Regions from separate parts of the Homo sapiens genome. Here region 2 is linked to region 1. The links come from fine-mapping of genetic effects on gene expression. A gene starts in region 1. The other region holds a variant in brackets. All regions are shown on one strand. Distances are between the middles of the regions. Region 1 holds the start of EFNB3 (ephrin B3). Region 2 overlaps DNAH2 (dynein axonemal heavy chain 2).

Region 1 (2,500 bases):
ATGCCATTGACTGGTTGGTTGCTAGGCAACTTGGTAAACTGAAGGGGGAAACCTGTTTGAAATCTCACTCCCAAGGTGGGGGCGGCAGGGGTCAGGGTGAGCGGGGCTGAGCAGGAGCTGGGTCAGACTGTTGGGTGTGACCGTGTGAGACTGTGCAGACAGTGACAGGGCGCCTGTCGCCCACACTCCACACTGTTTGCCATTCTCCAGCAGCATGGGGACCATTACTCAGCTCTGAGGGGAGCAGGAGCACTCTCCTCCGCTCCCCGGGGCTCCCCAGGAGGCAGACAACCCAGTTGCCAGAGTCAAGGACACACATAAAAGAGTAAAGGTGTTGAAAAATACAGTCGTCACCTTTGATATTGCTGTTCCATGCGGGGCGCGGCGAGGGTCTTATTCATTCAGCGGCTGTCGCTGGGCTTGTTTCTCCATTTGTCTGCTCTGTCTTTGGGGGTGGGGGACGAGTGTGTCATTTGAAGCAGTGACTCCTCCCTCCTCCCCCCAACACCTTCCCAAACACTGAGAATGGGGGGACTTTGAAGAAATACTGCCAGCAGGGGATGTGATTTTGGACCTCACAATCAAAGGGAAGGGACGAAAGGCCTGGGGAGGCTTGAGAGGGAGAGGAATGTCACCCCTGCCCAGAGGTGCTGAAAGCCAGGGCTCTTACACCCGAAAAGGCAACTCCTCCCTTCCCCCAGGATAATTGGAAACAGCCCTTCCTGCGCAGCGCCGGTTTGGGGTTGTAGGTACGCCCCTTCTTCTCCCAGCCCCGCTTCTCCCCCCAGCCATCTAGGAAAGACCCAAGTGTATCCCCTAAACTCTTGTTTTTCACTAACCCCCAGGTAACAACAGCACTTGGTCCATGGAGCAGTGACAAAAGAGACCCCAAGAGTGGGAGGTGCGCAGCCTGGGTTTGGTTTCTAGCTTTATCCCAGACTTCCTGTGTGACCTTGGGCAAGTCACGGGGCCTCCCTGAGCCTCAGTTTCCTCATCTCTGCAATGGGATCGTTAGCTCTGCCCCTCCCACTTCACACAGGTAGTCGTGACGATCAGCTCCGCCGCACTTTGTAAAGCGCCAAGCCTTCAAGGTTATTATTATTCTCTCCAAACCTGCCGGGAGCAGCGGTGTTGTTTTGGGATGGAGGAGGAGGCTGCGGGAGCGAAAGGGGTGGGTTCCTCGGGGTGGAGAGGGCGAGAGCCTTTCTGGATTCGAGAGAGGAAGATTCCAGCAGCTTGGGCGATCGGAGGGCAGGAGGGGAGCCGGGCAGAACTCAGCCGGAGCCAGAGGCTCGGAGAGACAAAGGGGGCGTGACAGCCCGCGCCGGGGGCTGAGGCGGGGCGGCGGGCGGGAGGTGCGCGAGGTGAGGGAGGTGTGGGGGGCGTGGGCCGCGGGATGCTGCCGCCCGCTCCGCCTCGAGCTCCAGCTCCGGTTTTTCCCTCCACCATCCTCTGCCCCTCCCCGCCTCTCCTTTAACTCCCCCCTCCTGGGCTCGGGACTGGTTTCCTCCCTTAGCCCGCTGCCCTCAATCCCAGCGAGGCTGGGGCTCCGGCTCGGCGCCCCCTTCCTCGCTCCCTGGTCCGGCGCCCCATGCCGCCCCCGCCCGGTCCCCGGCTCCCCCAGTCCCCCACTTAGGCGGGCTCACAGATCCCGGGGTGCTGGCGCGTGGGCCGGGGGCGCGTAGGGCGCCTGCAGACGGCCCCTGGAAGGGCTCTGGTGGGGCTGAGCGCTCTGCCGCGGGGGCGCGGGCACAGCAGGAAGCAGGTCCGCGTGGGCGCTGGGGGCATCAGCTACCGGGGTGGTCCGGGCTGAAGAGCCAGGCAGCCAAGGCAGCCACCCCGGGGGGTGGGCGACTTTGGGGGAGTTGGTGCCCCGCCCCCCAGGCCTTGGCGGGGTCATGGGGCCCCCCCATTCTGGGCCGGGGGGCGTGCGAGTCGGGGCCCTGCTGCTGCTGGGGGTTTTGGGGCTGGTGTCTGGGCTCAGCCTGGAGCCTGTCTACTGGAACTCGGCGAATAAGAGGTGAGTGGCCTGCGGCTGGGGAGATCCCAGACCCTAGGGCAGTGGGTAGGGAAGCTCTGGGGGCTTGGAGGCGGGCTTCTGTGGGCAGGGAGGAGGCGGGAGGGAAGGTGCTGGTGCTCTGATGTGTGATGGGTTACTAGACAGGTGATCTTGGGAGCCAGACTCCGGGTCCCACGCAGAGCTGGATGCGGGTGGTGCTATGGATGTCAGGAGTTTGGAGACCCCAAAGGGGCAAGGAGAAGAAAGTTCATGGGTAGCCGGGAGGGCAGTGAGGTGGGTATTTGGATCTGTGGGAGGCCTGCGTCGGGGGCTGGGCTTGGAGGGAGCCTGGTTACTGTCAGCTCTCAGGAGAGAGCTGCAGATTAGGTGCTGCGAGTCGCTGAGGGGAAGGCAGGGCAGGGTGCCTCCCTCCCCCAGAGGGACTGCGCATCCGAGATGGGAGGCAAGGGGGTTCCGTTTGGGGGCTCTGGGGACAACTTC
Region 2 (2,500 bases), 82 kb after region 1:
TTCAACTCTGCAATGGGCCAGCTTCCCAATGAGTGAACAGAGCCGGAGTGCAGAGGGCCCTGGTGCCATTTTTAACAGTTTGAACGTATTCTCTCTGGCACCGGGGAGATTTTGAAAGCCCTTTAAAGGCCTCATCCTTTTTCTTCTGCTTGCTGTGTTTTCCCTTCCCTCAGCTGCGGGAGACCGTTGAGCAGGAGATTCGAGACATGGGCCTGCAAAGCACGCCGTTCACCCTCACCAAGGTTTTCCAGTTGTATGAAACCAAGAACTCCCGCCACTCCACCATGATCGTGGGCTGCACGGGCAGCGGCAAGACTGCCTCATGGCGCATTCTACAGGCCTCCCTGTCCTCTCTGTGCCGCGCCGGAGACCCTAACTTCAACATTGTTAGAGTACGGGGCTGGGACAGTGGAGTCAGTGGGCAGAGACTTGAGTAGTAAGAAGACAATGGAGGGTGGGGGCCAGGGAGGACCTTGCAAGGCCGGGAGAGCTGTACCTGGGACCATGGTGGCCTGGAGCGATGAGAGAAGGGACAAATGCACGTACCTAAGAGGGGTCTGGAAATAAAGAGGGGTTTTTGTCCATCAGCAGCTAAAACCCCTTCCGGTGTCATTTTCAGGAGTTCCCTTTGAACCCCAAGGCATTGTCCCTAGGGGAACTGTATGGGGAATATGACCTCAGCACCAATGAATGGACAGATGGCATCTTGTCCAGTGTCATGCGGACGGCATGTGCAGGTATCCAGAGGATCGTGGGGTGTGGAGAGCAGACGCCTGAGTCTCCTAAGGGGGCAGGGAGTCTGGGGATAGGAAGTTCCAAGTTGGGAGAGAAATGCCTGGGGAATGCTGAAGTACAAGGGAGTGTAGGCTTGTGTCTCCGAGGAGCGTGAGCGGAGGGTGCAAGGTGAGCGGCTCCCCGGTTTCCTCATCACCCACCATCTACTCAGATGAGAAACCCGACGAGAAGTGGATCCTGTTCGATGGCCCCGTGGACACACTGTGGATCGAGAACATGAACTCCGTCATGGACGATAACAAGGTGTTGACCCTCATCAACGGCGAGCGCATCGCGATGCCCGAGCAGGTCAGGGACGCGGCTGACTCCTGGAGGCCTGCAGAGGCAGGCACCGGAGGGC[G/A]TGGGCCGGGGCTGGGGAGGAGAGCCAGAAATCTCAGAGCAGGGCAGGTTCTGTGGGAGAGAGCTGAAAGGTGGATGCCTGGATTCAGGGAAACCTGCAGCTGAAGAAAAATGCTTTGCTTGCCGCGGCTGTTGAGAACAATGATAAGAAAAACACCCTCTGTTGTAAGCACTGTGTAGGCTTGGGCGGCCCTCCTCGGCTCGTTCTCACGGATGCATGAGGCAGGACCCTCGTTTGTGCACCCAGAGGTATGAATTCACGGACTGGCAAGCACACCCTTTTCCACCCACTCCAACAATGCGAGCAAGAGAGTGATTTTTCAAAAGGACAACCTTGAATAAGCTCTAGTTTCTTTTAAAGCAAACTGGGCCGGGCCGGGTGGCTCACGCCTGTAATCCTAGCACTTTGGGAGGCCAAGGTGGGCAGATCACTTGAGGTCAGGAGTTCAAGACCAGCCTGGCCAACAGGGTAAAACCCCATCTCTACTAAAAAATACAAAAGTTAGCTGGGTGTGGTGTTGTGCACCTGTAGTCCCAGGTACTCTGGAGGCTGAGGTGGGAGGATTGCTTGAACCTGAGAGGCGGAGGTTGCAGTCAGCCAAGATCACGCCACTGCACTCCAGCCTGGGTGACGGAGTGAGACTTTGTCTTAAAAAAAAAAAAAAAAAAAGCAAATCGTTTGTGAACTTGTAGCATCCGAGTTCCGGGTGTTTTATTATTCCTGAAGGTGGGGGATGCAGAGAAAGATGAAGTTCTGACAAACGTATATCCTTAGGTGTCTCTCCTGTTTGAAGTGGAGGACCTGGCAATGGCCTCTCCGGCCACTGTATCCCGCTGCGGGATGGTCTACACTGACTACGCTGACCTGGGCTGGAAGCCCTATGTTCAGTCATGGCTGGAGAAGAGGCCAAAGGTATGAAGGGAACTGAGGAGAGGGAAAGTAACCAGGGTGGCTCCAGGACACAAGGGTGAATGAAGAGCCCCTTCTTATTCAACTCCAGGCTGAGGTGGAGCCCCTTCAACGCATGTTCGAAAAGCTCATCAACAAGATGCTGGCCTTTAAGAAGGACAACTGCAAGGAGCTGGTGCCCCTGCCCGAGTACAGCGGTATCACCTCCCTCTGCAAGCTGTACTCTGCCCTGGCCACGCCAGAGAATGGGGTAAGGGGAGGACACAGACCACGGGCAGGGGCAGGGGGTGCTCACAGCCTCACCAGAACAACTTCTGGGAAACGGCGTGTCTGAGACAGGTTGAACTCCAGGCTTGAGTGGAGCAGAGACTCCAGGGGGAGGCTTCAACGACCATGGAGGCAGTGAGGGGTGTGTGTGTGCATGTCTGTGTGTGTGCACGTGTGCATTGAGCTGAA

The links. PIP is the estimated chance that this variant, and not a neighbour inherited with it, causes the effect.
Region 2: its variant is fine-mapped to the expression of EFNB3 in unexposed skin (GTEx, PIP above 0.99). The same link has a PIP of 0.9 or more in sun-exposed skin.

Annotation. Positions count from the first base shown.
Region 1 is chr17:7,703,701-7,706,200 of GRCh38, forward strand. EFNB3 (ephrin B3) reads left to right here and starts at 1,502. Exons shown (of 5, transcript NM_001406.4): 1 at 1,502-2,020. The coding sequence starts at 1,899. RefSeq lists enhancers at 1-94, 95-986, 116-195, 1,880-2,500 and a silencer at 1-185.
Region 2 is chr17:7,785,951-7,788,450 of GRCh38, forward strand. DNAH2 (dynein axonemal heavy chain 2) reads left to right here. Exons shown (of 86, transcript NM_020877.5): 40 at 174-392; 41 at 620-737; 42 at 947-1,083; 43 at 1,910-2,047; 44 at 2,136-2,294. Among named protein-coding and RNA genes, the nearest start is that of KDM6B, 47 kb to the right of the region's middle. The variant G/A (reference allele first, on the strand shown) is at 1,136.